7 linked regions of the Homo sapiens genome follow. The protein of the gene in region 1 purifies or fractionates together with the protein of each later gene. This does not show direct contact. Each region holds a gene or a part of one and is shown in the gene's direction. Other genes may lie near its edges.

Region 1 (4,693 bases):
TTTAGGTACTCAGTCGCCTCCTTATGTTGATACATTCTCATATTAAAAGAGTAGGTAATTTTCTGCTGCATAACTCTTCAGGCTACTTCCTCCTCCTACCCTTTTAACTAAATGAGTGTAAGCCAATAATAAATGGCTAGGACGTAGTTTTCCCTAAAGGAAAGCCAAAAGGGCTTAATACATTGTTAAATTTCACTGACTCAACAGGTATTGCTTTACTTGGTAGATATTTCAGACATCTGTGCATTTTGTATGGGTATCAGTCTCTCCTGTCCTTGTTACATGGATGCATCTCAATTCTTTTCTCATCCTGTTGTTAGGTGGCAGTGGCAATCAGCTGAGATCTTTTGGCTCCGGGCAGTTGGACTTAACCAGTTCCTCCTCTTCTCTTGGAAGTGAGAACAGTAACAAGAATAACAATGCACCACGGACCTATGGGATAGGTGGGGTTTATAGAACCAAAAATGGGGTGGGAAAGAGAGGAATCATCTCATTAGTTAATGAAAATGGGAGAATTCCTCCAAATGTCAAGTGCTCCATCTGAGTGATTTATTTTTCTGAAACTTTTTTTTTTTTAAGCAGACTGTTCAGGGAGGGCTTTAAATCTTATCTGTCAGAACTTGCAGTGTGGTTTTATAAAAAGACATTTTATAAATGAACACATTAAATCTTATCAAGACCTGTGCAGCCTTTAAAAAATAAATCAGGAATTACCAATATGCTGAAAGAACATACTTAAACTGGCAACATTTAGATGCTCTAGATTTTAATTTTTCTTAGGTAAGTGGCATTGAAGAAATTTGCATTGCATATAAGATAAAGTCAATATTTAAGTAACATGAGATCCCTAGTAATGTAGACAAGAAAAAATGAATATTGAGAAAGAAGATTTGGATTTTTTTCATTAAAAATACCAAGATAGGGCCGGGTGCAGTGGCTTACGCCTGTAATCCCAGCACTTTGGGAGGCCAAGACAGGCTGATTACCTGAGGCCAGGAGTTCGAGACTAGCTTGGCCAACATGGTGAAACCCCTGTCTCTAGTAAAAATACAAAAAAAAAAAATTAGCCAGACATGGTGGCACATGCCTGTAATCCCAGCCACTCGGGAGGCTGAGGCAGGAGAATCGCTTGAAGCCAGGAGGTGGAGTTTTCAGTGAGCCAAGATCCCGCCACTGCACTCCAGCTTGGGTGACAGAGGGAGACTCCGTCTCAAAAACAAAAAAATCAAGATAGGCCCCTGCCATTGTGTCTTTCAAAATTATTTTTAGTAGCAAAAGAGAGTTAAGGGTCCTTTCAGGCCAAGAAGTGGACATCTGTTTAGATATTCTATAGTAATGATCTTGTGAAAAGTGCCCTTTAACTCCTTCAAAACGATTGGCTTTTATGTGGTTCAACCAATATTAATATTGAAAAACCAAATGGCAAAAATTCAAAGACATCTTCAGGTCTTATTTCTTATTCTTTTTGTTTATATGTTTACTTAAAATTGTAGGTAGGATACAGGTATTTCCAGTTGAATTAGTCTATGCCATACAAGTTCTAAAAATTGAAAACTGTTGAAAACAAGATCAGTGGCTTTGCATTTTGAAAAAAACATACTTTAAAATCTGATCCGTTATTCTTCATGGTTTCTTTTCTGTAGACTAATAGTGTAATTATATAGGTAAGGGAGCTAAGAATAGTTGAGTGGTGCCTTTTCTGCATCTTTTCCTAGCTTGTAGGATACTTTCTTTTTTCCTCTCTAAACTTCGATTAAACAACTTAAGCTTCATTAGAATAAAACATTTGTCTCTTAGTCATGTGGTCTCTACAAGTGAAATGGGGTTTTTCTCCCCACTTAAGAGATATCTATGCCTGCATTTTATTTTTGCTTCTATTTGGTAGACTTCCCTTTGATGTTATAAACCTAGAGAGTCTAATTAATACGGTTGTATTTCTCATGCAGGCTATACTTTGGCTCCCAGTGGTACTGTGGATAATTTTTCAGATTCTGGTCACAGTGAAATTTCTTCACGATCCAGTATTGTTAGCAATTCGTCTTTTGACTCAGTGCCAGTCTCACTGCACGATGAGAGGCGCCAGAGGCATTCTGTCAGCATCGTGGAAACAAACCTAGGGATGGGCAGGATGGAGAGGCGGACCATGATTGAACCTGATCAGTATAGCTTGGGGTAGGTGGCTCTTTTTAATATTCTTCTGAATTTATCCTTCCATCTCTGTTTTAATAATGAGTCTTTTCTTCCAGTGTTTGTTTTTATTTATTTTACATAATGCCTAAGAATTTTTCTGCCATCCCAGTTCTGATTTTCACAATTTCTACACTAAGTATCATGTTATTTTTGTTAAGCAGACTGCTTTTTTAGTTAAGTTTATTCTTCATTGGAACACAGTTGTTCTGTGCTGAAGGCAGAGGGTGACTGTAGGATCCATCCCAGTTGTTTCGTATGAGCTGCCTTCCTGAAATAATCAAATTATATTGAGCCACCCTTAATGTTGTCGGGGAATTTTTTTTTTTTTAATGGCACGTTGCGTTCTTTTCCCGCATGCCTGTTTTATAGTAATGATAAAGTCAGAAGGCTAGACATGGCAGAACTGGCCAATATAAGGCAATTCAGTGCTACTTTTATCCTGTTTCTGGGATGAAAGCAAGCTACCTTTCTAGGAAAAAGGGTATTTTGGTTTTATCATAGGTGAATTAGTTATCAATCTTGTTTTTTTTTTCTTTTCCATTTCTTTTAACCACTTAGGTCCTATGCACCAATGTCCGAGGGCCGAGGCTTATATGCTACAGCTACAGTAATTTCTTCTCCAAGCACAGAGGAACTTTCCCAGGATCAGGGGGATCGCGCGTCACTTGATGCTGCTGACAGTGGCCGTGGGAGCTGGACGTCATGCTCAAGTGGCTCCCATGATAATATACAGACGATCCAGCACCAGAGAAGCTGGGAGACTCTTCCATTCGGGCATACTCACTTTGATTATTCAGGGGATCCTGCAGGTTTATGGGCATCAAGCAGCCATATGGACCAAATTATGTTTTCTGATCATAGCACAAAGTATAACAGGCAAAATCAAAGTAGAGAGAGCCTTGAACAAGCCCAGTCCCGAGCAAGCTGGGCGTCTTCCACAGGTTACTGGGGAGAAGACTCAGAAGGTGACACAGGCACAATAAAGCGGAGGGGTGGAAAGGATGTTTCCATTGAAGCCGAAAGCAGTAGCCTAACGTCTGTGACTACGGAAGAAACCAAGCCTGTCCCCATGCCTGCCCACATAGCTGTGGCATCAAGTACTACAAAGGGGCTCATTGGTAAGTTTTAAAATTGGGGGACTTTGTCATGTCTGGATCATGTCTTTAATGTAACTTATTACAATAGTAAAATTATGTGTTTGTTGGTTCTTTTCCTCATTTTCTCCATTGCTATGTAGGACTTCCAAATTAGTGGTGTGTTAAGGTCTTTGAAATCAATAGTGGTTAAGAGCCCAGGTTTTGTGGTCAGGTACCTACAGATCTGTTCCTATATAACAAAACATTCAATAAATCTTAGCTATCAGGATGAGTAGATTGTCATTGTGAATATTATCTAGTCTAATTTTTTTCTCTTAACCTGAAAATCAGGATGGATTCCTATTATTCATAGAGGAGAAATTTTTCTTTAATTGAAACTCTTTTATATCTTTGATTCTTCTATTTTGTTCTCTTGATTGTATTTAGAACTATACGCTTTGTATACTTAAAAGTCTTCCATTGATTTTTATTCTGCACGCACATTGTTGATAAGCAATTCTTTGTGCACGCTGTAGAAGGAGGGAGAGGTGCTAATAGTGTAATGACTAAGAGCACGGGTTTAGGAGTCAGGCGGACTGGGGATTGAATCCCTGTTTTGCCACTTTATTAGTTTTGTGACATTGGGTAAAATACAAAACAGTGCCTGTTTCCTCATCTGTAAAATGAGCTTCATAATTTCTACTTAATGGAGTTAGTGTGAGGATTCAAGGAAATTTATGCAAAGTATTTAGAACAGTGCCCAGATAGTAGATTCACTAAGTACATGAAAGCTATTGCTGCTGCTGTTCCTGTTAGAAGAGGCTCTCATGCGCCCTCAGTCCTGTTGAGATGTGTTTTCTATGGCACAATTAACATCTATATAGACGAAGTGTAGGAACAGATGATAGGTTGTAGAGTGAGAAATTCTGGAGTATAATCATTACGGACATTACTTTTATTAGTAGGAAAATTGTAGTTATTTAGCCATGTAAATAGTCATGGGTAGATTTCAAGTTTAATATCCTTTTACAATGAATAAGGAGAAAACAGTTAATAAATATTCTTAGGTTGGACTTTTTCAAGTGCTTACAACTAATACTCAGAATTTTTATTGCAAAGGAAGGAAGAATGATTTTTAGTTCCTAACAATTGAGTTTTAAAAGTTCAAGAAAATGAAACTTTAGTTTTACTGGCCTATACAGGTTTCATATTCTAGGTCATGAGCATCAATAAAGGGATTTTAAGAAAAATAGACACCTTATAGTAATAGTTTTAGAATTTTTAAATTGGTATCCTTTGTGCGACTTTTCCAAATTTATTTTAATTCACTGTTTCTGTAAGTGAAGTCTTGAGACCCGAGAGTGATGTAGAATTGCTTCTCTGCCTGGTAAAGATAAATGCCCAGAAAGAGGGCAGATCCGGCAGGC
Region 2 (4,693 bases), on another chromosome or scaffold:
TTCCCCAGCAGTGTGAGAAACAGTGCTTCAGTGAGAGGCTGTGCCTCAGAGGTGTGGAGAGGTGAGAATTCCTTCCATTGTGTTACAACTAATTCTGAGTCCCAATTGGTGTAGAAAAACCAAAGGTGGTTATTACATTTTACATTATGATAGCCAGGTATAATGGGAAGAGGCAGTTGGAGGGATTTGGAGCCAGAAATGTGGTTTGCACTTCTAGCATGTGAGTAAATTAAGTAAATCATTTATCCTCTCTGAACATCATCTTCCTTGTATATTAAATGGAACCGGGTAGGATTGTTCTGAAGGTTGGAGATAATATATGTAGAGTGCCTGGGACTTAGTAGCTACTTAGTAGATGTCACTTATTATTAATATCAAGAACCATGGGAGGAAGAAGAGGATTTGCAGAAAGGGGAGCTCAGCTTTGTAGCTACTGACTTAGACAAACAGTAATGAAGGAGCTCTAAAGCCAGTTGAAAATGCAAGACTGGCCTGGAGGCAGGGCTAGGACTGGAGTCAGGGGACTGCCTGACTTGTCCCTGGCCCCCCGCTCTGCCTCAGGGTAAAGACTGGATTGTTTTCAGCATAAACACACTGATCATAACAGGTTAGGTTACCCAGACTAAGGGTAGAACTGGATAATTATGTACATCTAGGGTACTATTTTTACACTTCAATTTTAACATATAATAATTATACATATTTATGGGGTACAGAGTTGTATTTCTACACATGTATAAAATGTAATGGTCAATTCAGGGTAATTAGCATATCTGTCTCCTAAACATTAATCATTTCTTTGTGTTGGGAACATTTAAAATTCTCTCCTAGCTGTTTGAAAATATGCAATAAATTATTGTTAACTATAGTCATCCTACAATGCTATAGAGCACTAGAATTTATTCTTCCTATCTAATGTAATTTTGTATCCATTCACCATCCTCTCTCCCTATCTCCCCTCCACTTCCCAGCCTCTAGTAACCACAATTCTAATCTCCACTTATGTGAACACAACTATTTTAGGTCCGCATACGAAGGAGAATGCGCGGTATTTGTCTTTCTGTGTCTGGCTTATTGCACTTAACATAATGTCCTCCAGGCTCATTAGGGTACTATTTTGCAATTTTCTTTTCTGTAACTGAAACACACACACACATATACAATGGAAATTAAAGCTGCTTTTTTTTTTAAGTCTCTTGAAACAATTTTTACCTGTATTATATGCACTAGACTTACGACTATTTAATTATATTTGCATTAACAAAGAAGTGCTGGACTGGGCTTAGTGGCTCATGCCTGTAACCCCAGCACTTTGGAAGACTGAGGCGGGTGAATCCTTCGAGCTCAGGAGTTCGAGACCAGCCTGGGCAACATGGTGAAACCCGTCTTTACCAGAAATACAAAAATAAATTACCCAGGTGTGGTGGCATGCACTTGTGGTCCCAGCTACTCTGGAGGCTGGGATAGGAAGATCACTTGAGCCTGGCAGGCAGAAGTTGCAATGAGCCAAGATTGCACCAGCACCATTGCATTCCAAACTGGGTAATAGAGTAAGACCCCATCTAAAAAAAAAAAAAAAAAAAAAAAAAGCTGCTTGGGACCTACTGAGTTAATTTCATGATTATTAGTGAAATCAATCTGAAAAATACAAATATTCTAGGGTATTGAACCAACTGGAAGTCTTGAAGTGTTTTAAAGAGACTATAACCGATGTTATGGAGAATTAAGATAAAGACAGAAACAACTTGTGAATTTGGCAACTAGGAGGTCCTTTGTGACTTGAGAGTATAATTTCCATGCAGTGATTGTGGTTGGAGGCCAGATCACAGAGGCCTAAAGAGTCAGCAGTGTCATAGCCAACAGATACAGTACTGAGTTCTGCTTGCCTTTAAGTCATTACATCCCCAAACAAACCTTAGGAGGGAGAAGCTGTTATTACCCTCAGCTTTCCATTATAGGTAAGGAAAGTTATTTTCAGATGGGCTAAGTAACTTGCCCAAGGCCACATAGTGATGGAGCGCATCCGTCTGACAGCACAGCCCATGCTCCTGTCTGCAAGTCACCATCAGTGGCTCTTTGAAAGCAAAGTGAGGAAGAAACATGTCAGTTGAGAGGGTGGCAGAGTGGAAAAGAAGGTTAGTGTGTTATGTGTGGTCATGTTACTGGGGCCTTGGAGATCACTTCGTTCTGCTTTTCATTTTGTAAATGAGGAAACAGGCCTCGAGGCGTAAGGATTCTTAGGCAGGGTCACACAGCTAGTTATGCAAAACTGAAACCAGATTCCAGGTCTGACGTCGGTATGGATCACCTTCAAGCACTGCGTAGAATTCTTTCGTTTTTACTTTTTACTAAAATTATTTTTAATATAGTACATTATTAATGGTATCTTAAGCCTTGGCCCTTCAGATATTGTTCAGTAAGAGTGACTTAGGGGCTTTTTTTTGTTTTTTGTTTTGGTAACAGGTTTATTGAGATTCAATTCACATGCCATAGGCAATTTACCCATGTAAAGTGTACATTTTAGTTTTAGTATCTTCAGAGAATTGTACAGTCATCACCAAACTCAATTTTAGAACATTTTTATCATCCCCAAAAGAAACCTTCAACCACTCCTCCCCTGTGTTCTCCCAACTCCCTAGCCAGCCCCGGGCAATCGCTTATCTACCTTCTGTCTCAACAGATTTATCCATTCTGGACATTTCCTATAAATGGAATCATAGAATGTGTAGTCTTTCATATCTGGCTTCTTTCACTTAGCATAATATTTTCATGTATCAATCAGTACTTCATTTCTTTTTTCTTTTTTCTTTTTCTTTTTGGTAGAGATAGGGTCATGATATGTTGCTCAGGCTGGTCTTTAACTCCTGTGCTCAGGTGATCTCCAGCTTCGACCTCCTAAAGTGCTGAGGTTATAGTTGTGAGCCACCATACCCAGCCAGTACTTCATTTTTTTTGGTTGCTGGCATTAGCCTTTTCTCCAAGGAACCTGGTTCTATTAAAGATTTTTTATTTGTCAGTCTATATGCTATTTATTAGGCATGGTGGCTAATGCCTGTAATCCCAGCACTTTGGGAGGCCGAGGTGGGCAGATCACGAGGTCAGGAGATCGAGACCATCCTGGGCAACATGGCAAAACCCCGTCTCTACTAAAAATACAAAAATTAGCTGGATGTGGTGGTGCGTGCCTATAATCCCAGCTACTCGGGAGGCTGAGGCAGGAGAATCGCCTGAACCCAGGAGGCAGAGGTTGCAGTGAGCCGAGATCGTGCCACTGCACTCCAGCCTGGTGACAGAGTGAGACTCCATCTCAAAAAAAAAAAAAAAAAAAAAAAAAGTTACTGTTTTCTATTAGTAATTTATTCATTTGTTTTGATCATTATGGGTTCAACATCTCATTTTGTTTGAGGGGTTGTAAGTCATACTATTATTTATTTTGATGTTGAGATTATTTCAACTTTGGCCCATGAGAGCTGCTTCAAGTTGGCTTCCATGGCATTTTGACATGTTCACGATTCTTTGAGCACTTTACTACTTTGTGATGCGGGATTATTCTAGGCTCATCTTCTGTCTCTCTTGCTATAAGCCTGTTCTCCAAGGAACCCACGCTCTTTTAAATATTTTTATCCATTAATCTGTTTACTCATCTGTTAATCTATGAAAAACCATGAGTTTCTCCTGATACCTTCAATTCCAGCCTAATACCACAGGGCTCATTCTTCCCCCTTTCATGTTTGTAACTTACTTCCCAGAAGTTAAGAACCTGGCTCTCATTACCCTCAATATGTTTACTCCTTTTCTCAATCCTAGAGGTCACATAAGATAGTCTCAGAATTGCTAGCCCATACCACTACAGAAAACAAACCTGCTAACTGGAATTGAATATTTTTGTACAATGCCTATTAAGTGAAATGGGTATACATGGAGTGCAGATTTTAAGTATACAGTGCAAAGAGGGAGTATTTCTTTTCTTTTTTTTTTTTTCTTTTAAGACAGGGTCTCGTTCTGTCTCCCAGGCTGGAATGCAGTGGCATAATTATAGCTTACTGCAGCCCTGATCTCCTGGGCTCAAGTGATCCTCGTGTCTCAGCCTCCTGAGTAGCTAGGACTACAGGCACCTGCCGCCACACCTGACTAATTTTTAAATTTTTTTTAAGAGATGGGATCTCACTATGTTGCCCAGGCTGATCTCAAATTCCTGGGCTCAAGCAATTCTCCCACCTCAGCCTACTGAGTAGCTGGGACTACAGGTGTGCCTCACTGTAGCTGGGACTACAGGTGTGCATTGCCATACCTGGCTACTTTTAAATTTTTTTTTAGAGACAGTCTTACTGTGTTGCCTAGGCTGATGTCGAACTCCTGGCCTCAAGTGATCGTTTTACCTCAGCCTCCCAAAGTGCTGGGATTACAAGGTAAGCCACAGTGCCTGGCCTGCAATAAATTTTGATAAATGGATATATCTGTGTAATCTACACCCCTGTCAAAATGTAGAACATTTTCATCACCCCAGAAAAGTTCTCTTGTGTCCATTCTCAGTTAATCCTCCCTTGTCCCCCCTTCTACAGGCAACACTGTTCTAATTTCTGTTACCCTAGATTAGTTTTGCTCATTCTTGAATTTTAAATAAACGGAATTGCATAGTAAATCTTATTTTGTATCTGGCTTCTGTCACTTAACATTTTTGGGATTTGTTAGA
Region 3 (4,103 bases), on another chromosome or scaffold:
CTCACAGCCGGCCATCTGGTTGTCTGTTCACCCAATCCTAGGGCTACGTGAAGCATGACTGCGTCGGGTACGTGATGAAGAAGGCTCCCGTGCGGCTGCAGGAGTGCATTGAGCTCTTCACCACTGTGGAGACCCTGGAGAAGGAAAACCCCTGGTGAGGGGCCAGAGCGGGGCCTGTGTGTGGGGGTTTCATTGGATGGAACTACTATATTTAGCTTTTTTTTTTTTTTTTTGAGACAGAGTCTGGCTCTGTCAACCCAGGCTGAAGTGCAGTGGTACAATCTCGGCTCAGTGCAACCTCTGCCTCCCAGGATCAAGCTGTTCTCCTGCCTAAGTCTCCTGAGTAGCTGGGATTATAGGCACCCACTACCATGCCTGGCTAATTTTTATATTTTTAGTAGAAACAGGTTTTGCCACGTTGGCCAGGCTGGTCTCGAACTCCTGACTAAAGATGATCCACCCGCCTTGGCCTTCCAAAGTGCTGGGATTACAGGCGTGAGCCACCACACCTGGCCTATATTTAGCTCTTTAAGTATACCTTCCTCCTCCCTCCTCCACACTCAAACCCTTCTTGCCAACCTGGCCACCAATCTCCTGAGCAGACTCCTACCCCAGAGCCTTGGCCTGTGCTGTTCCTTCTCCAGGAATGTTGTTCCCAGTGATCTACAGGACTTCACTCCTTACGATGCTCAGGTCTCCGATCAAATGTGACCTCATCAGAGAGACCTCCTCTGACTACCCTGTTAAAAATCACCCTTCCCCACCATCCCTCTCCATCCCCTCTCTGCTCTTTTCTTCCTAGCCAAGCATTACTTTCTAGCTCAGCGATGCCACTTGATGTGATGTCCTGTATCCACTTTTGTGTTATTTGTCATCTTCGTTAGAGTCAACTCCTCGAGGGTGAAGACTTAAGTTCACTGTGTGTTGCTTCTACCTGTTTATAATAGTGTTGAGTGTTCGGTTGATGCTCAGTAGACACTTGCAGAATAAACAAAAAGAGAACCAAAACCACACTCCCTAGTCTCAGAAATAAGAGCAGCATGTCCGTGGAGCAGAAATGGAACAGAAATACAAAATAGTTCCAAAGGGTTAAACAAGCAATCAATAAATACTGGGGAGTGAATGAATGACTAAAATACGAAGAGAGGAAACTAGAAGGATAGAGGTGGGCTCTAAAATAAGACTAGCATCTCATGGAACAGAAATCAAACAAAAATACAAAAAATAGTATGAGCACATATACAAAAGATAGTAAGCACTTGACGAGTGAGTGAAAGGATTTTAACAGGAACAGAGCAAACTAGAATACTAGATGGGCTAATAGTAAGAGCAGTGTTTCTGTGAGCCAGACATGGCACGTGAGAGGCAGTACAAAGGGCGCACAGTAGGTGCTCAGAAAAAGTCTGTTTTGGCTGGGCATTGTGGCTCATGCCTGTCATCCGAGTACCTTGGGAGGCCGACACGGGTGGATCACCTGAGGTCAGGAATTCAAGGCCAGCCTGGCCAACATGGTGAAACCCTGTCTCTATTAAAAATACACAAATTAGCAGGGCATGGTGGTGCATGCCTGTAATTCCAGCTACTCGGGAGGCTGAGGCAGGAGAATCGCTTGAACCCAGGAGGTGGAGGCTGCAGTGATCCGAGATCGCGCCACTGTACTCCAGCCTGGGCAACAGAGCGATTCTCTGTCTCAAAAAAAAAAAAAAGAAAAAGTCCGTTTGCTGACTCGGGCTCTGTCTGTAGGTACTGCCCTTCCTGCAAGCAGCACCAGCTGGCAACCAAGAAGCTGGACCTGTGGATGCTGCCGGAGATTCTCATCATCCACCTGAAACGCTTTTCCTACACCAAGTTCTCCCGAGAGAAGCTGGACACCCTCGTGGAGTTTCCTATCCGGTCAGGGGCCAGGGAGAGGATGGCTGGGGGAAGGCAGGGAAAGGAGGGGGTGTACCAGTATTAACCCTCTCCCCACCCACAGGGACCTGGACTTCTCTGAGTTTGTCATCCAGCCACAGAATGAGTCGAATCCGGAGCTGTACAAATATGACCTCATCGCGGTTTCCAACCATTATGGGGGCATGCGTGATGGACACTGTATGTGCCAGGCTGTGGGTGGGGCCTGCCCTGGGGGTTCTGGGCAGGGGGGCGATCAGGACCTTCCCAGTGAGTGACTAGGGATGTGAGCCAGTGGTGAGGTTATCGTGGTGGGAGGAGTGACAAGAGTGAATCTGGACACTTCTGAGAGGCAGGAAGGGTAGGCGAGGATAACTCTCCTTCCCTTTCAGACACAACATTTGCCTGCAACAAGGACAGCGGCCAGTGGCACTACTTTGATGACAACAGCGTCTCCCCTGTCAATGAGAATCAGATCGAGGTGTGACTTCCATCCTACCTCCTCCCCTTCTTCCTTTCTGATTCCACCTCCCCACCCCCACAATCCACACTGACTCCTGTCCTCTCCCCACAGTCCAAGGCAGCCTATGTCCTCTTCTACCAACGCCAGGACGTGGCGCGACGCCTGCTGTCCCCGGCCGGCTCATCTGGCGCCCCAGCCTCCCCTGCCTGCAGCTCCCCACCCAGCTCTGAGTTCATGGATGTTAATTGAGAGCCCTGGGTCCTGCCACAGAAAAAAAAAAAAAAAAGCCCTCTCTGCAATCTCGCTTCTCGTGTCCGCCCCGCTTCTCTTATTCGTGTTAGGTGCCCCCGCCAGGCATTGCAGGCTTAGTCGTGGCTACTGTTCTCCTGTGCCGCTGCATCGCTCTCTCCCGGGAAAGAACAGGTCGTGTCTCCTCCTAGCAGTGCGCGCCCCGCCTGTGTTTGCCCTTCCAGCAGTGACCCTCCCTTCTAGTCTTTATTTATGGTCGTGCCCTTCCCTCTCCTCAGCCCAGAGTGTTCTGCGTGGGTGGTGATGGGGGTTCACCTGAACACAGAGTGTATTTTCTTATTGAGGCCCTGTACCTTCTGCTGTGTGTGTGTATATATAAAGCACCAGTCTGCTCCCCACTCAGCAGTGTGGTTTTTTCCTCCATGGACTTAACTAAGCACCAGTTTTGTGCCTGTGTTCTGTGTTCTTATCAAAGGCCAGATGTGTGATGGGTGCAGCTCTGAGTGGTTAGTGAGCACCAGCTGTGGGCTGGGTACTGCTGTTCTAAGTGCTTTGAAAGCACCCTCTGTGTGCCAGGCACGATTCCAAGCACCAATGGCATGCCCAGTTTTTTCCAAAATATTTTCCAAATATTGATACGTAATCCTCACAACAATCTCATGCAAGAGTTGTCATCTCCAGTTTCGGATGGGGATACTGAGGTACAGAGGTCACAGAATTGCTCAGGGCTTGTCAGGAGGTCAGTATACCTCATGTGCTACCCGAGTCGGTCCCTGGAGTGGGTGCTTGGCTTGTCTGGACCCAGGACTGCTACTCAATCTGCAGACATGAGCTGCCCTACAGGCAATGTGGAAATGGAGCACGTGGGACGGATGCATCCATGTGGGCAAATTTGTGGTTTGGGGACATAAAAATACTCCTCTCAGGCCAGGTGCCACCTGTTATCTCAACACTTTGGGAGGCCAAGGCAGGAGGATCACTTGGGCCCTGGATGTTGAGGTTGCAGTGATCTATGATCGTGCCACTGCACTCCAGTCTGGGCCACAGAGCAAGACCCCATCTCAAAAAAAGGATGCTATTCCCCAGACCACCTCACAGACCCCCAGTAGTGTCCTCTGAGAAGATTTTGTCCCCCTGAGACCTCCTTTGGAGATGGTACATGCATTTGGCAGACCAGCCAACCTGCCAGGACAAATGTGCTGTCTGTGTGTGGCCCCTGTAGTCAGCCCCCTCTCCCATCATGACCCCAGCTCCCACACCAGGCAGGTTCCCTCCAACCTCACCCCAGACGACACTGAACACCTGCCGCAGGAATTTGGACATAAATAAGCCATCCAACCCTTCACACTGATGGGTGAGGGGAATCCTGATCGGTGGCAGCTGAGAGGCCATTCTCATGGCCAGGGCCTCAACACTCCCCCCAGCCTTCTGCCTTTGCACTGGGTCTGGGCAGACCCACTGTGAGGGTCACTCAGCCCCAGCATCGCCACCCGCAAACCTC
Region 4 (4,515 bases), on another chromosome or scaffold:
TTTACTGTGCCACGAGGCACTATTCCTGCCGAGCTGAGAGAGAGGCAGTGTGGTGACCAGGACTTGTAGCAAGACCAGGAGTTAGATCCAGAGAAGGCTCTTCTCTGGGAGACCCTGGGATGACTTTGAGAAGGGGTTGAGGCTCAGGATGATGTGGGATGAGGCCAGTGGGGCACTGCCTGGTGGCAGGTGAGCCAGCCTTGCCCCTTCTCCGTGTAGGTCCTGGCCTGGTCAAGTGGGGACAGCTCAGGGGCCATGAAAAAAGCTGAGGCATCACTGGCTAGAGCGTACCCCATGGACAGCTCCCTTTCTGCCCCTCATCTCCTGAAAAGATAGGTTTTCTCCAGGAGTCACAGCCCCTCGGGAGAATCCTCCTCCACCCTGGGGTCAGCCGGGGAGCAGAGGGTGGGAGGCGGGGGCACAGCCTCCTGGGAAGCATTCCCAGCTGCTGAGCCATGGCCCATAACTGGTGTGGCTGCCAGCAGTGAGCTCAGCTGTTCCAGCCAGTCATGGATTCCAGCCTTGAGCCGGCCCCCTCCCCGAAACGGTGTGCCGTCCCCCTCCTCCAGCTCTGGCCTAAACCAAGCGCCCCTTCACCTGCACCGTTCATAGGAGTGATCTGGGGCTGCCTCAGCGTCCTTCCTGTTAGGAAGGCAGGGCTCCTGAGGGCTGCAGAGGAGAAGTCATTCTCTCCTCACAGGCCCTTTAATGCCTCAGTTTCCCCAAGTGAGCAGTTAGAAGGAATAGGGAGTCTCATACCCTAAGACTGGTGTGGAAAGCGTTTGGAGTTCTAGAGCTTCGGGGCAGCTGTGAGGAGGCCTTCTAGGGGGGATGGGTCAGGGGCATATGTGGGACAGGCACTCTGACCTCCTCTGCCCACCCCTGAGAAAGCTGAATGAGGCAAGAGATAGCGAGAGGGGGTACCCTCCCAGGGTTTGGGGTTCAAGGTCTGAGCTGGGGCCTGGGCAGGCAGGAGGCCGGCCAGCAGGGCTGGTGCCAGGCTGCGTCAGCCAGGGCAGAAAGGCTTCATTGTTGGTGGTGGAGAGGGCTGTCCTGCTCCTACGTGGTGAGGGGCCTCGAAGCTGATGGGGTCAGCAGGAACCTGGCTGGTCAAGGCCTAGAGCTGGTGGGAAGGGGTGTAAAGCCACAGCCTCTGAGGGTGTTGGGTGAACAAATGCCCTGCATCCTGGCCGGCTGGCTGCCCCTCACCATCGTCTCCCTCCATCACCTCTCCAGGTCTCTGCCCCGACTGGGAGGCCTGGGACCCCAACCAGCCCGTGGAGAACGCCCGGGAGGCCATGCAGCAGGCCGACGACTGGCTTGGGGTGCCCCAGGTACATGCGCAGATGGGGCAGGGGGGAAAGGGGGCAGGGGCAGAGGTTGGGTCTGTAAGTTTACCTGGCCAGGGTGCAGGGGGAGACTGGGGCTGCTGGGAAAAGAGGGCGCCATGTGACATCACTCCTTTCCATCGCAGGTCATTGCCCCTGAGGAGATTGTGGACCCCAACGTGGATGAGCATTCTGTTATGACCTACCTGTCCCAGTTCCCCAAGGCCAAGCTCAAACCTGGTGCCCCTGTTCGATCCAAGCAGCTGAACCCCAAGAAAGCCATCGCCTATGGGCCTGGTATGTGTGAGCCCCTGGCGGCCCTCCTGGGCAGCTGGGCACATGTAGGCTCTCCCTGAGTAACCTGGGCTCTGCTCCTGCCCCGTAGGCATCGAGCCACAGGGCAACACCGTGCTGCAGCCTGCCCACTTCACCGTGCAGACGGTGGACGCGGGCGTGGGCGAGGTGCTGGTCTACATCGAGGACCCTGAAGGCCACACCGAGGAGGTATGCAGAGGCCGCTGGGGACAGAGGGATTCACTTGGGATTGGAACCAGAGAGCGTGGGGCCAACAACAGGAATGGCCCGGAGGTGACTGCCAGAGCCACACACTGTGCTGTGCAGTCTGGGGAAGGTGTCACCATGGGGGCTGAGTGGGGCTGGGGTGCATAAGGCACTGTGGGGTCAGGAGGGGCTATGGTCATTGGAGAGGCTTCCAATCTTTTTCCTTCCTAATAGGCTAAGGTGGTTCCCAACAATGACAAGGATCGCACCTATGCTGTCTCCTATGTGCCCAAGGTCGCTGGGTTACACAAGGTATCTCCCTCTAGGCCCCCCTGCCTGCGCTGCTCTTCACATCCTTGGTTCCGGCTGCATGGACCCCTCTCTCAGCCTGTACCTCGCGCCTGCCCAGAGCCCCAGCTGCCCGCCTCTCACCCTCCTTGGCCTGGCTGTGCCCCTCTGCCCCCTCTCAGGACTGCTCTCCCCTAGAAGCTAACCTTTGACCTCTGACCCCTAGGTGACCGTGCTCTTTGCTGGCCAGAACATTGAACGCAGTCCCTTTGAGGTGAACGTGGGCATGGCCCTGGGAGATGCCAACAAGGTGTCAGCCCGTGGCCCTGGCCTGGAACCTGTGGGCAATGTGGCCAACAAACCCACCTACTTTGACATCTACACTGCGGGTAGGACGGGCCCCAGGGGGTGCAGGTGGAAAGCCCCTGACCATGTGGGGCTGTGTGGGGGTGGGGGGAGGCTGGGACAGGGATGCCAGCCAGAGGGTGGGCAGCCTCAGGGTGAGGGCACCGGGGCAGCTGTGTGTGTCCAGAGTGGTGCTGACAGCCTCTGTTTTCGGCAGGGGCCGGCACTGGCGATGTTGCTGTGGTGATCGTGGACCCACAGGGCCGGCGGGACACAGTGGAGGTGGCCCTGGAGGACAAGGGTGACAGCACGTTCCGCTGCACATACAGACCTGCCATGGAGGGGCCACATACCGTGCATGTGGCCTTTGCGGGTGCCCCCATCACCCGCAGTCCCTTCCCTGTCCATGTGTCGGAAGGTAAGGGCCCTTCACTGCTCCCCACGGTAGCCCTTACCAAAGCCAGAGGCTTGCAAGGGGCAGGAGGAAGAGCTGGGGCGGGGGTCTGCAGAGACCCCCTCCCTGAGTCCTCCATCCCACCCCCAAGGTGGCTGGAGTTCCTAAGAGCACAGCTGGGAGGCCACAGTGAAGGGTCCCAGAACATGTGCCACCCTGGGAGGGCTGAGCGGAAGTGACGGGGCTGTATGGGTGGGGGCATATCTAGGGAGTACTGCCTGCATGCCAAGCCCTCAGGTGGTGACTGCCCCACTTGTTCTCTCCCTGCACTCAGTGCCCATCGTCCACCAGGCCGAGAGTGATGCCACATTAATGCTCTCCAGTGGAGGCGGGGCCAGGCATGGCCGCAGCTGACTGGCCTCACCTGTGCTGTGTGGCATGGCCCGGGCCGTGTGGAATCGCCCCCCCTTCCTTGGCATTCTGTGGCAGGCCCCAGGTTCCATGCCGTTGTCTGTGTTCTGTGGCAGGTCTAGTGTCTTTGCCACTTGCCTGGTGATTTCTATGATGAAATCTGGGCTCTGAGCCATTGCCTGTGTTCCGTGGTACCCCTTGGGCAGTGCCATCGCCTATGGTCATGGTAGTCCTGGAATATGTGTCGTGTCCTGTTTCGTAGCACCTGTGGGTCCCATGCCATTTTTCTGGATTCTGTGGCAGGCTGAGATTCCCATTCCTTTGCCTGTGTTCCATAGCAAGGCCTGGGCTCATTGCCACTGGCCACGGTCTGTGGTAGGCTGATGTCCACACGTTGCCTGTGTTGTATGGCAGGCTTCGAGTTCTATGAAGTAGCCCTTGTTCTGTGGCATTGCTGGATGTTTTGTGGCATGACTTAGATCCTAAGGTTGCTTTGGTGCCCTGAGAGGCCCAGAGGGCTCTAGATGGATGGCCTTGGGCTGGGTAAAGGGGCCTTCCCTGTCTCTCTGAGCCCACTCTCAGCCCAGGCTCTGCCATGCATTTCCCCAGTGGCACTGGCTCGGAAACTTTCTTGTAACCTGCCTGATCTGGGGCCTGTAGCCAGCTCCAGCCCGGCAGCCCCGGTTGTGCTGGGGACACAAAGGGCTCCAGAGCAGGGCCGTGGGCCACTGCCTGTGCCTGGGAGGGGTTAGAAGGACTGTGCACAGGGAGGTGGGGGCTAGTGGTCCAAGGCCCCTCAGCACCCCCAACCTCCTTTCTCTTCCTCCCCTAGCCTGTAACCCCAACGCCTGCCGCGCCTCTGGGCGAGGCCTGCAGCCCAAGGGTGTTCGCGTGAAAGAGGTGGCTGACTTCAAGGTGTTTACCAAGGGTGCCGGCAGCGGGGAGCTCAAGGTCACGGTCAAGGGGCCAAGTGAGTGCCAGAGCCCAGGGTCGTGAGGGTGGGGCTGGGGGATCATAAGGGAAGTATGGCCAGTGGTTCTGACTCCCAGAGGGCAGTGACAGCCAGCACCACAGCTCCACAGTGACCAGAGGCACCCCAGAATCTCAGGCTCATTGTCTCCTCTCTGCCTCAGTTTCTTGGTCTACAAGCCAGGAATGATTCTCTCCACCCTAAGTGCTATACGGGGTGTTATGCACAGGGATGACAAGTGTTCCCTGCCCTGAGTTGCAGCACTGCTCACTACAGCA
Region 5 (4,693 bases), on another chromosome or scaffold:
AACAGAGAGCCAAATCATGAGTGAACTCCCATTCACAATTGCTACAAAGAGAATAAAATACCTGGGAATACAACTCACAAGGGATGTGGAGGACCTCTTGAAGGAGAACTACAAACCACAGCTCAAGGAAGTAAGAGAGGACACAAACAAATGGAAAAACATTTCATGCTCATGGATAGGAAGAATCAATATCATGAAAATGGCCATACTGCTCAAAGTAATTTATAGATTCAGTGGTATCCCCATCAAGCTACCTGAAAAAGAGCCCGTATAGCCAAGACATTCCTAAGCAAAAAGAACGAAGCCGGAGGCATCACGCTACCTGACTTCAAACTATACTACAAGGCTACAGTAACCAAAACAACATGGTGCTGCTACTGAAACAGATATATAGACCTATGGAACAGAACAGAGGCGTCAGAATTAACAACACACATCCACAACCATCTTATCTTTGATAAACCTGACAAAAACAAGCAATAGGGAAAGGATTCCCTATTTAATAAATGGTGTTGGGAAAACTGGCTAGCCATATGCAGAAAACTGAACCTGGACCCTTCCTTACACCTTATACAGAAATTAACTCAAGATGGATTAAAGACTTAAACGTGTAAAACCTAAAACCATAAAAACCCTAGAAGAAAACCTAGGCAGTACCATGCAGGACATAGGCATGGGCAAAAACTTCAAACTAAAACACCAAAAGCAGTGGCCACAAAAGCCAGAATTGACAAATGGGATCTAATTAAACTAAAGAGCTTCTGCACAGTAAAAGAAACTATCATCAGAGCGAACAGGCAATGTACAAAATGTACAATGTACAGAAAATTTTTGCAATGTATCCATCTGGCAAAGAGCTAATATCCAGAATGTATAAGAAACTTAAACAAATTTTCCAGAAAAAAACAACCCCATCAAAAAGTGGGTGAAGGATATGAACAGACACTTCTCAAAAGCAGACATTTATATGGCCAGCAAACACATGAAAAAAAGCGCATCATCACTGGTTATTAGAGAAATGCAAATCAAAACCACAATGAGATACCATCTCACACCAGTTAGAATGGCCATTATTAAAAAGTCAGGAAACAACAGGTGCTGGAGAGGATGTGGAGAAATAGGAATGCTTTTTTTGGTGGGGGTGTAAATTGGTTCAACCATTGTGGAAGACAGTGTGGTGATTTCCTCAAAGATCTAGAACCAGAAATATCATTTGACCCAGCAATCCCATTACTGCGTATATACCCAAAGGATTATAAGTCATTCTACTATAAAGACACATGCACACATATGTTTATTGCAGCACTGTTCACAATAGCAAAGACTTGGAACCAACCCAAATGCCCATCAATGATAGACTGGATAAGGAAAATGTAGCACATATACACCATGGAATACTATGCAGCCATAAAATAGGATGAGTTCATGTCCTTTGCAGGGACATAGATGAAGCTGGAAACCATCATTCTTAGCAAACTAACACAGGAACAGAAAACCAAACACTGCATGTTCTTCCTCATAAGTGGGAGTTGAACAATGGTAACACATGGACACAGGGAGGGGAACATCACATACTGGCGCCTGTTGGGAGGGTGAGGGACTAGGGGAGGGATACCATTAGGAGAAATATCTAATGTAGATGATGTGTTGATGGGTGCAGCAAACCACCATGGCATGTGTATACTTACGTAACAAACCTGCACGTTCTGCACATGTATCCCAGAACTTAAAGTATTTAAAAAAAAAAAAAGTCATCTGTCAGGTTTTAGGTCGTTTTTGTTCACGTGTGTCATAAGCTTGCTATGGTGGATATTGGCTAGATACTCTTCCTTCTCACCTCTTTTCTCATTCACTTGGGTTTTTCTCTTGTGAAGTATTTCCTTGCGGTTATCAGTGTAGGCACAATGAAAAGTAACTTTTAGTAATTCATTCAAATTTTAAAGTTCTGTCATCTGCTTAACTAAATTTTTGTTTTTGTTTTTCAGCATTGGTTGGATGGTACAAAAAGCATCAAAAAGCAAGTAAAAAGTAAGTGCAGACAAAATTATTTGTGGGGGGGAAAGGAAATAGAATATATTAGAAATTCTGATTTCTAATAGGATGTAAGAAATCATGTTTCAGATGAGTTTTTTAGCATTTCCATTTTCTAGAAATTATTTTATTCTGATACACTGAGCTACTCCCCAAGTCATGTAGGCTTGATACTAATCTAGATTAAACTGCATTGGGGCTTAACTTTCCAGGAGAAAACCTTGCAGCTTGCAAATGGGATTGACTTTCCCCGAAATGCTTAATGGTTATTTTTTAATTAGTTGTGTTGGAATTTTCCTGTTTGGCATCTGCCCTAATATTGAAAGTATTTTGAGACTTTGTGATATTTTAAAATTAAGAAAAATGAAACAATTCACATAAAATGTTAGTGTCATTCAGAGAGAGAATACCATTGTTTATTCATTATCCAACTTGACTTTTTATCAGACTTATTAGGGCACCTCAACTCTTGTCTCAAAATAATGAGACCACTGAGATTATAGAAGTTAGTGAACTTGCTGAATTGTATTTGTGTGGGAAGATTCACCATGAGCAGTTAATAACATAGGCATTCTTCAGTGTAGCAGGTTTTCAGGGCTGTTAGGTTGCACAGTCAAGACTTTTATTTGATGCATTTGGCTCTGAACTGTTAGAATTAATCTATAGCTGTCTATTCTTGGGATGAGAGTTAATAGTAATATGATGGCTTGGTACATTAAAAAACAATCTAATTGAAGCCTATGATCTAACCTGCAATAATGCCATAAAAACCTCATCTTTTGTCTCACTTCAGTAGATTTTTGACCAGTTTTCTGGCTGAAAAGTATTATTTAAGTAGTTTATTTTATTAAAACCTTTTTTTTTTTTAAATGACAGTTGGTTCACCCTATTGTCTGCATCTTCGAGTTAAGTTTTATTCCTCAGAACCAAATAACCTTCGTGAGGAGCTAACCCGGTAAGAACACCATCTAGAATTGTGCCAGGGTTATTTTGATAGTTTTGAAAGACTGTCTTTATATTGTTTCCAATTTATAGCCAGCTAATAAAATGGATTCCTGTCCCCTGGTAACAAGACCTCAAATAATAGAATTTTATTCTGGGACGTGTTTTTTAAGTGTATGATTCTTTTCCTTTAGCATTTTCAAAATAAAGAGTTGGTTTCTTAGCATCCTCCAAAGGTGACTAGTGAGTTCTTTTTTTTAAGTATCACTCTCAACTCAGGAATGTTAACAGGATTCACATGTTTCAATACATTGCAATATTATATTTATTGATGTTGAAAATAATCTATCTTTGGCCACAGGGAGTTTATTCAAATTGGCGCCCAACTTTCTTTACTCATTGAAATGCCATTGATTAATGAAAAACATTAGATTCTGATTGGTTTGAATAGTTTTGAATAAACCTTATGTTGTATATACTTATTTTAATGTTATCCTGCCTCCTTTGTATTTATTCATGGTCTCTATTATAAATTCATTGCTCCATATACACATACTATTTATTAAATGAAAAAGTTGAGCTTTTGAGTTCCTTTAGAAGGGTTTCCTTTAGAACACCTTGACAATGAGATAGTAGCTATCATCTGTAGTTATATCCATGTCTGTATCCCTTCACATAACAAGTAGATGTCTCGCTCTGTCATCTAGGCTGGAGTGCAATGGCATGTTCTCAGTTCACCGCAACCTCTGTTCCCCCAGGTTCAAGCAGTTCTCATGCCTCAGCCTCCCAAATAGCTGGGATTACAGGCACGTGCTCACACCCCCAGCCAATTTGCGTATTTTAATAGAGACGGGGTTTCGCCATGTTGGCCAGGCTGGTCTTGAACTCCTGGCCTCAAGTGATCCACCCGCCTCGCCCTCCCAAAGTGCTAGGATTATAGGTGTGAGCCACTGCACCAGGCCTTTAATTAAGAATACTTCTAAGATCTAGTGTTAGATCAGTAGGGTGATTATAGTTTACAATTACGTATTTTACATTTCAGAATAGCTAGAAGAAAATAATTCAAATATTTCTAGCATAAAGAAGAGAAAAATATTTAAGGTGATGGATACCCCACGTATACTGACTTGATCCTTACAAATTATATGAATGTATTCAATTATTTCATGTATCCCCAAACTATGCACATCTTTTATACATTAATACAAGTAATTTTTAATGAAATAATACTTCTCAAGTTAGAAGTGTAAGATTTTTTTTCACAGTCGATTGTGCTGTTGGGTTAAATTTGTGCCTTTCATTTTTCTTAGGTATTTATTTGTTCTTCAGTTAAAACAAGATATTCTCAGTGGAAAGTGAGTATTAGTTATTTAAGGATAAATGCACATTTTCGTGAGTGGTTGAAAAATTATTTTGAAAATAAGTTTATAGTTGTAAAAAAGAAATGGTCAACATAAAACATGTATTATTTTCATTTGTCTTAAAATGAAGGTTATGAAATCAACTTGTCTAACAAACTTGTGTTTTGGTCTCAGATTAGACTGTCCCTTTGATACAGCAGTGCAATTGGCAGCTTATAATCTGCAAGGTAAGCAATTCTTATGTTGACTGTTAAGACTCAAGTATAATCTTTTTTGTGTGTGTTTTTAGTTAAAGAAGATTCTAATTATGTGCAAGAAAAGAAACAACACTGTTTTTGTATAAACTTGTATCAGGGTCC
Region 6 (3,518 bases), on another chromosome or scaffold:
TTTAAGCTTTTAGTTCAAGGTTATATTCAGAAAATATTTCCCAGTATAATGATACATCGTAGCCTAAGAAATATTTTCTCAATGTAATTCCCTTCCCAGCTACCCAAATGCTACAGAGAAATGTTTTCTACTTGGCCACTATCAGGGTTCGTCATCTATTGTGTTGACTATTAATGGCTTTTTGATTGGGTAAGGATTTTGCTATAGATGAAGGTAGAGGGCTGTCAGCCCTGAAAAACACACAGGTCAGACATTTAAAAGGCATGGGTTTCGAGCTGTCTCAAAATATTGCCCAATAGCCATAATTTTACCAGCCTTTCTGTCATATGCTGCTATTACAAAGTGGAAGCTGTTGAATGTTTATTGGTGCCCAGGGTTTTGCTCTCCAATCTAGGTTCAGTTGAAGGAATATTGTTTCTAAGACTGTTTTGAGACATGTCCAGTACATCACAAAGGAGATCGGGGCGACCCCTGCAGATGTGGAGCCATTAGCCCAGTTGAGGATATTCTCCAAGTTGTCCTCTCTCCTGCTGATGGAAATGGGAATGAAGTTAAGTGGTCTGAAAAACTTGAATCGTTCACATTTCTCAGCTCTGGGGGTCATTTACCAGTTTGTTGTAGAAGAAATAATCAGGTAAGTTAAAAGTTCATTTCCAGAGAAGGTAAACCCCACTTACCATCTCTGCATGATTTCAGTGGGAATTGATTATCACTAATCCCCAACTGGGCTAGAATAAATGTAAAGTTTGACCTTTTTAAAACGAAAAGAGAGACAAAGTCTCAGCACATTCCAAGGAGTGGTAGAAACAGAGCTGAAGGTGTCCCCATTGTAGATTAGTCTCTTCTCACTAAAATTTACTTTCCAACGTAGGGCCTAAAGGAAACCTTTCTTAAAGACAGGCTGAAACCCCTTCAAAGGCAGATGAGGAGGTACAGACACGTGACCTTTTGGTGCACACTGGAGCTACTTGGACAAGACCAGCATGCCTTGCTGCACGTGTGTGTATTTCACTGCTGAGAACATCCTTTAACTTGGTGTGCAATTTGAAAGGATGTGAATCATGGATGGAAGGCCATTTGTACATGTCCCTTGGCAAAATTCTTTCTGGTGTCTCCTAACTTCAGAGACAGGGACTCTTTTTGGATCTCTATTGACAAGTAATAAAAGTCTGGCCCTCATAACTTGTTTCCGAACTAGAAAAGTCTGTGAGACCCCTACATCATTCTGGTTTTTTTGCTTGAGTAAGAACAATCCTTTTTTATTTTTCTTCTGTACAGTCTAAAGCTACAGAGAAAAAAAAATGCACTCTTCCCTTGCCGGCTCCTGGTACCATTGGTCTGAACAGCTGTAGTTGGTCTACTCCTTACTTAGCACTTGATTGTGTGGGGAAACAAAGGTGGGAGGGGTGGGGAATACTGGAAATAATCAGGGCAATTTTTTTCTTTCCCATAATTGGACTAGATACCTTGGTACTGTTGACCTTCTCAGCATCTCCCTTTTGCCTTAGATGGCAACACCCTCCAGTCTGTAGCAGAGCAGTCCAACCCAGATTAGTGCAGCCCGGAGGCTTAGGGTGCAGCCTCCCTGGTCTTCCTCCACACAGTTGTTCACCAACAGACCAGACCTCCTTTAACCACAGTGTCAACATAGTATCGGAAAGAGAGCCATTTCTTAGGGGAATAAAACAGTTTCGCTTCTTTAGCTCATCTGTGGTGTCAGAATCCTTGGAGCTGAAGAGAGAAATCAAAAGAGCATGATGATGGCTGCCTGGTTTCAGGTGGAACTTAATGCATTGATCTTTAGAAGCTCCTTCTGTTGGAAGTTGAGTACCTGTGATCTAAAATGTCCTGGAGGCAGATGACATCTAAAATATGTGCTTTCCAACCAGCACAGCTGGCGCTCTTAGCTCCTGATTGGTTGTGTGTTTTATTAAGGATCAGTGCAGTTAAGTCGTATTTTAAAGTGTTACCTCCCCTCCTAACCCTTCCCCTTCTTGGACACTGAAGGAAAAGGCCAACTAGGGTGTTAGCCCTCTGGGCACCAAGGAAACTAACAGCTTTCTCAAAGCGGTGACCACTCAGGCCAGCCCAGACAAATCTGAGGGATGGCCAGTGCACTCCAATGATGGGACAGGCCTAACAACACATGTAAGCTTCCCCGAGAGCTTTCAGCTGGTTCACCTCTTTGTTCTCTAGACTCTTAAGTACTGACTGCTTTGACTTTTGTGATTATGTTATGGTGATGTGTAGTCAGTGTACCAATATGTTCACAACCTAGGATCATGATAATGGAGTGTGTTTTGGGTTTTTTTTAACTGTTCAGAAAAAAAGTAAATTACAAATATAAGATTAAAGTGAATTTTCTAAGCGTCTTGTCTCCTTGCCCCAGCATCCAGAAGGGCAGTACACTTTTCAGTATACAGACTGAGGGAGTGCAGAGATAGAATACCTTTGCAGATAATCTGACATGAGAAAACAAGATTGAGAGAAAGCAGGGCTGGATGCTGTGGATGAGTGTGGGGTCCCTGGCTTACGCCTACTGTTCCATGTTGAGTTAAATTGAAGCCAAAGTCATGTCTCATTTGTGCATTGGTCACCTTAGCCAACCACAGCCCAACCTGAATGCAGAATTTACATTTTTCTCTGCCCCTCAGCTGTGAAAAGACTTGAGTTTCCCCTACATCCCATTTGATCAGTTTATAGGCAAGCAAGCTCACATCTGGGAGCAATTTCCAGAGGGGCTCCAACAAGCTGTAAGAATGAAGGCACCCTTGACTATCTGGGATATGACATTGCAGTTCTTGAGTGAAACCCCCCTTCCCTCCTTCAGCCAAACCTGGAGAGGTACAAGGTTGCAGGCAGTGGCCGAATGGGACTATCTCTCCCCGTTGGCCCTGTACCCCTCCCCTCTCTAGTGTCACAAACAGGATCCTTGTCAAAATTGACCCATCCTTCTTTTAGATCTATGGGCTTTTTGTATTAATAACCCTTCCACATGACCAAGGCTCTCTGGCTTCCATCAGCCTTGTAGTCTCATTGTCTTGTCTGGACTGACCACTGGCCATGAGCAATCTCAGACTGTGGTCAATATCAGGGCCGCTGTGCAGAACCCTCCCTACTAGAGCTGGAAGAATGTCAGAGCATCAGGTCCACCCAACCCTTGGCAGATGAGGAAACTGAGGAGAAAGAAAAGGGACCCACATTGCCCAAAACTACACTGAAGAATCCTCCCTAACAACTAAGGGCAGGCAGCACCCAAGAGAGAGAAGGAAGGGAGGGAGGTGTCAGAGGAACCACTGTGGGGCCACTGGTATCTGCTCAGTTAATATTCCTCACCAGCTGGGCTCCTGAGCAGAGGCTGAGCCTAAGAGTTTGTGGACCTCACCCTCAAACTGTGTCAGATCTCTTCCCCAGGAAGGGTGTGGTCTAGGGCCTGCCCTGGCAAGTCTCAACCCTATAGCCGTGGTTTCCTACTCCCAGGCTGGGCCAGGAATCCCTCCCTGCTTTAAACCTATAGC
Region 7 (4,693 bases), on another chromosome or scaffold:
ACGGGCGCGGTGGCTCACGCCTGTAATCCCAGCACTTTAGGAGGCCAGGGTGGGCGGATCACGAGGTCAGGAGATCAAGACCATTCTGGCTAACATGGTGAAACCCCGTCTCTACTAAAAATACAAAAAAATTAGCCGGACGTGGTGGCGGGCGCCTGTAGTCACAGCTACTCGGGAGGCTGAGGCAGGAGAATGGCGTGAACCCGGGAGGCAGAGCTTGCAGTGAGCCGAGATCGCGCCACTGCACTCCAGCCTGGGCAACAGAGTGAGACTCTGTCTCAGAAAAAAAAAAAAGAATTTACACAAAGCAGTCATTTGGTTCCCTTCCCCTTTGGGTGATGGTTTGGGTTTTTTGTTATTTTTGCATTGTTTTGCCATGAATAAGTATCTAAGTAAGTTAGAACTTGTCTTTCCTAAATTTGCAGATGCACACTTAACATGAAAAAATAGAATTAGGTGTAGGGTAATTTATCTCATACCAAAAATTCAATCTCAATGACTATCGTATTCACTGGTATCCTTTGTTTAAATATTTTAAAGTAATAAAAGCAAGAAACCTAAGTGCTTTAAACTTCTCTGCAGAAATGTAATGATTCCCTTTTGCTACAACCAATAGAATTCTTACTGAACAATCTGGAGTAGAAGTAATAAAAAGAACAATTATGTATTCCCATTAAGAGAATCTTAAATTTTATTATGTGTCATTTTGTGCAGATCTGAAAGTAATCATGCCCAATCATTTTCTGGTTGAATGTTTATGAGTCTGTGTACTAATGTTTCTCTATAATATCTCCTTAATGTCCTCATTTAGGCTTCATTAACTCTACGCATTTCTCTGGCTGTTTTTAGGCTGTTTTCCAGTTGAATCTCTTTTATTTTGGTTTTTTTGTTTGTTTGTTTTGTTTTGTTTGAGATGGAGTTTCTCTCTTATTGCCCAGGCTAGAGTGCAATGGCGCGATCTCAGCTCACTGCAACCTCCACCACCTGGGTTCAAGTGATTCTCCTGCCTCAGCCTCGAGAGTAGCTGGAATTACAGGCATGTGCCACCACGCCCGGCCAATTTTGTATCTTTAATAGAGACAGGGTTTCTCCATGTTGACCAGGCTGGTCTTGAACCCCTGACCTCAGGTGATCCACCTGAGCCCAGCCTTGAATCTCTTTTAAAGCATCCAAAATGTGTTCATTGTACTAAGAGTTAAAGATAGGAGGGCCGGATGTGGTGGCTCATGCCTGTAATCCCAGCACTTTGGGAGGCCGAGGCAGGTGGATCACGAGGTCAGGAGTTCAAGGCCAGCCAGGCCAAGATGCTGAAACCCCGTCTCTACTAAAAATACTAAAATTAGCTGGGCTTGGTGGCACCCGCCTGTAATCCCAGCTACTTGGTAGGCTGAGGCAGGAGAATCACTTGAACCCAGGTGGCAGCGGTTGCAGTAAGCTGAGGTGGCACCACTGTACTCCAGCCTGGGTGACAGAGCAAGACTCCATCTCCAAAAAAAAAGTTAGGAGTTGAAAATGACCCTCTTGTTCTCAAAGGGGAAAAAAAAAACTCAGGATTTTTTCCTTCAATCTGCGTGCTGTTGCATAGTTCTTTCTTTCCACTGATTCACTAAGGGAGATCCACTGTGATCTTATTATCTAGAATTTGTTAAAGGTAGGTTTCTCTCATTTTATAGGTAAGAGAATGGAGACCCAGACAGATAAGATCATACATCAGTGATTCAGTAAAAATATAAATAACTCATAGTTTAAGTGAGGCTCTTCGAGGTTGACATGGCCCTTCTTTTTAATTTTGCAGGGATAAACACACTTGTTACCTATGATATGGTTCCAGAGCCCAAAATCATTGATGCTGCTTTGCGGGCATGCAGACGGTTAAATGATTTTGCTAGTACAGTTCGTATCCTAGAGGTTGTTAAGGTCAGTGAAATAATAATGCTAAAATTGTTCTGTAAATGAGTGGGCTATTGCTGAGGTATCAGAATATTCTGTATTTTTGAATTTGTTAAAATGCCTAAAATGAGTCCTTATATAACTAGAAGGAATGTACATTGCAGTTAAAATCTTTCTAGAGGCTACTTTGGCAGCATTTATTCAAGGCCTTACAAATTGTACATGATACACTTTTGTTCAGCAATTCCATTTAAGAATTTATCTTTTTTCTTTTTTCTCTCTTTTTTTTTTTTCTTTCTTTTTTAAGAATTTATCTTGGCCGTGTGTGATGGCTCATGCCTGTAATCCCAGCACTTTAGGAGGCTAAGGCGGGTGGATCATGCAATGTCAGGAGTTTGAGACCAGCCTGGCCAACATGGTGAAACCCTGTCTCTACTAAAAATATAAAAATTAGGCCAGGCGCGGTGGCTCACGCCTGTAATCCCAGCTCTTTGGGAGGCCGAGGCGGGCGGATCACGAGGTCAGGAGATCGAAACCATCCTGGCTAACACGGTGAAACCCTGTCTCTACTAAAAATACAAAAAAATTAGCCGGGTGTGGTGGCAGGCGCCTGTAGTCCCAGCTACTCAGGAGGCTGAGGCGGGAGAATGGCGTGAACCCGGGAGGCAAAGCTTGCAGTGAGCCAAGACAGCGCCACTGCACTCCAGCCTGGGTGACAGAGCAAGACTCTGTCTCAAAAAAAAAAAAAAAAAAAAAAAAATTAGCTGGGCATGGTGGCACATGCCTGTAATCCCAGCTACTTGGGAGGCCCAGGCAGGAGAATTGCTTGAACCCGGGAGGCGGAGGTAGCAGTGAGCTGAGATCGCACCATTGCACTCCAGCCTGGGCAACAAGAGAGAAACTCCGTCTCTAAAAAAAAAAAGAAAGGAATTTATCAAGGAAATAATAAAGGATATATAAAGATTTAACTACAAAGTGTATTCATCTTCTTGCTATTTGTCATACGAAATGTTAGGAATTCTTAAGAGGGAGCTTCCCAGAACTGGTTATACTACACAACTGTTGATACTGTAGAAATGTGTTTGACTTTAAACATATTTGTGTCGGCTGGGCACGGTGGCTCACGCCTGTAATCCCAGCACTTTGGGAGACTGAGGCAGGTGGATCACCTGAGGTCAAGAGTTCGAGACCAGCCTGACCAAGATGGAGAAACCCCATCTCTACTGAAAATAAAAAATTAGCCGGGCGTGGGGGTGCATGCCTGTAATCCCAGCTAGTCGGGAGGCTGAGGCAGGGGAATTGCTTGAACCCGGGAGGCAGAGGTTACAGTGAGCCAAGATGGCACCATTGCACTCCAGCCTGGGCAACAAGAGAGAGAAACTCCATCTCAAAAAATATATATATACATTATATGAAAACATAGGAGGATATATACTAATTTTCCTCCTTCTTATTTGGTCATAATTTCTGAGTTTATTTATTTTTTCGAGACAGAGTCTCACTCTGTCGCCCAAGCTGGAGTGCAATCATTGCGTGATCTCAGCTCACTGCAACCTCCGAGGTCTCCTGGGTTCAAGCAATTCTTCTGCCTCAGCCTCCCGAGTAGCTGGGATTACAGGCTAATTTTGTATTTTAAGAGACGGGGTTTCTCCATGTTGGTCAGGCTGATCTCAAACTCCTGACCTCAGTTGATCCGCCCGCCTCAGCCTCCCAAAGTGCTGGGATTACAGGCGTGAGCCACCACGCCCGGCCGGCACTTTCTTAGTTCTTTTGACTTCTTATTCGTTCCTAAGGAACCTTGTGACAGCACAGGTGTAACTATATATTACAGTGAAAAGTCTCCAGCCCTGGACATATGTATTCTCAAAGTACAGCTCTCCATGAAAAGATACTGTGGTCTGTAAGAAAGAAACTTAAGGTCCGTTAACAGCAAAAGTGTGACATTACTTTATCTATAATGGGTAAGATAATTAAGGGTTCTGTAGGCTATCAATCCATTCAGCACTGGTAGTTAATTCAGTTAAGGTCTCAAATTGGAGGCAAATGAAAAAACTTTTCCCGTTAACTTAATTATTCGTGTTGCCTGCTGGGCATGTCTAATTGCCTTCACAAAATTCTGTCATCACTACCTTCTTTTCCAGTAATTCTAGACTTTAAGATGTTCTGGATTTAGTCCAATTGCAGTTATTCTCAAGGTATTTCAAAAGCCTACCTTGAACAGTACATATATAAGTTGCCCTCTTTATTTTTATTTAATTATTATTATTTTTTTGAGACAGAGTCTCGCTCTGTCCCCTAGGCTGGAGTGTAGTGTCATGATCTCAGCTCACTGCAACCTCCGCCTCCCTAGTTCAAGCATTCCCGAGTAGCTGGGATTACAGGGGCGTGCCACCACACCCAGCAAATTTTTGTATTTTTAGTAGAGACGGGGTTTCACCATGTTGGTCAGGATGGTCTCGAACTCCTGACCTTGTGATCCACCCGCCTTGGCCTCCCAAAGTGCTGGAATTACAGGCATGAGCCACGGCACCCAGCAAGTTGCCCTACTTACCGAACAAATGTGTTAACTTAAAAGTAGATGACCTGTTTTGTTTTGTTTTGTTTCGTTTTTTGAGATAGAATCTTGTTCTGTCACCCAGGCTGGAGTGCAGTGGCGTGATCTTGGCTCACTGCAACCTCCGCTTCCCGGGTTCAAGCCGATTCTCCTGCCTCAGCCTCCCGAGTAGCTGAGATTACAGGCATGTGCCACTACACCTGGCTGATTTTTGTATTTTTAGTAGAGACGGGATTTCACCATGTTGTC

The links.
Region 2: the proteins of RAPGEF2 (region 1) and MESD purify together in Homo sapiens (affinity purification with mass spectrometry; one large-scale study listed by BioGRID and IntAct). This does not show direct contact.
Region 3: the proteins of RAPGEF2 (region 1) and USP11 purify together in Homo sapiens (affinity purification with mass spectrometry, with the first as the bait; one large-scale study listed by BioGRID). This does not show direct contact.
Region 4: the proteins of RAPGEF2 (region 1) and FLNC purify together in Homo sapiens (affinity purification with mass spectrometry, with the first as the bait; one large-scale study listed by BioGRID). This does not show direct contact.
Region 5: the proteins of RAPGEF2 (region 1) and EPB41L5 purify together in Homo sapiens (affinity purification with mass spectrometry, with the first as the bait; one large-scale study listed by BioGRID). This does not show direct contact.
Region 6: the proteins of RAPGEF2 (region 1) and BTRC purify together in Homo sapiens (affinity purification with western blotting; 3 studies listed by BioGRID, with this or other methods). This does not show direct contact.
Region 7: the proteins of RAPGEF2 (region 1) and COX5A purify together in Homo sapiens (affinity purification with mass spectrometry; one large-scale study listed by BioGRID and IntAct). This does not show direct contact.

Annotation. Positions count from the first base shown.
Region 1 is NC_000004.12:159,350,739-159,355,431, forward strand, and holds part of RAPGEF2 (rap guanine nucleotide exchange factor 2), read left to right. Parts: intron 1-320; coding exon of another isoform or gene 321-443; intron 444-1,946; coding exon 1,947-2,172; intron 2,173-2,748; coding exon 2,749-3,308; intron 3,309-4,693. UniProt on the Homo sapiens protein: Functions as a guanine nucleotide exchange factor (GEF), which activates Rap and Ras family of small GTPases by exchanging bound GDP for free GTP in a cAMP-dependent manner.
Region 2 is NC_000015.10:80,982,536-80,987,228, reverse strand, and holds part of MESD (LRP chaperone MESD precursor), read left to right. Parts: intron 1-4,693. UniProt on the Homo sapiens protein: Chaperone specifically assisting the folding of beta-propeller/EGF modules within the family of low-density lipoprotein receptors (LDLRs).
Region 3 is NC_000023.11:47,245,329-47,249,431, forward strand, and holds the end of USP11 (ubiquitin carboxyl-terminal hydrolase 11), read left to right. Parts: intron 1-41; coding exon 42-154; intron 155-1,743; coding exon 1,744-1,893; intron 1,894-1,975; coding exon 1,976-2,091; intron 2,092-2,282; coding exon 2,283-2,371; intron 2,372-2,464; coding exon 2,465-2,602; 3' UTR 2,603-3,000; downstream 3,001-4,103.
Region 4 is NC_000007.14:128,835,924-128,840,438, forward strand, and holds part of FLNC (filamin-C), read left to right. Parts: intron 1-1,236; coding exon 1,237-1,334; intron 1,335-1,474; coding exon 1,475-1,625; intron 1,626-1,713; coding exon 1,714-1,832; intron 1,833-2,063; coding exon 2,064-2,141; intron 2,142-2,343; coding exon 2,344-2,506; intron 2,507-2,679; coding exon 2,680-2,880; intron 2,881-4,099; coding exon 4,100-4,237; intron 4,238-4,515.
Region 5 is NC_000002.12:120,071,193-120,075,885, forward strand, and holds part of EPB41L5 (band 4.1-like protein 5), read left to right. Parts: intron 1-1,985; coding exon 1,986-2,028; intron 2,029-2,907; coding exon 2,908-2,986; intron 2,987-4,283; coding exon 4,284-4,328; intron 4,329-4,508; coding exon 4,509-4,561; intron 4,562-4,693. UniProt on the Homo sapiens protein: Plays a role in the formation and organization of tight junctions during the establishment of polarity in epithelial cells.
Region 6 is NC_000010.11:101,554,955-101,558,472, forward strand, and holds the end of BTRC (F-box/WD repeat-containing protein 1A), read left to right. Parts: 3' UTR 1-2,359; downstream 2,360-3,518. UniProt on the Homo sapiens protein: Substrate recognition component of a SCF (SKP1-CUL1-F-box protein) E3 ubiquitin-protein ligase complex which mediates the ubiquitination and subsequent proteasomal degradation of target proteins. Recognizes and binds to phosphorylated target proteins.
Region 7 is NC_000015.10:74,923,990-74,928,682, reverse strand, and holds part of COX5A (cytochrome c oxidase subunit 5A, mitochondrial precursor), read left to right. Parts: intron 1-1,795; coding exon 1,796-1,917; intron 1,918-4,693. UniProt on the Homo sapiens protein: Component of the cytochrome c oxidase, the last enzyme in the mitochondrial electron transport chain which drives oxidative phosphorylation.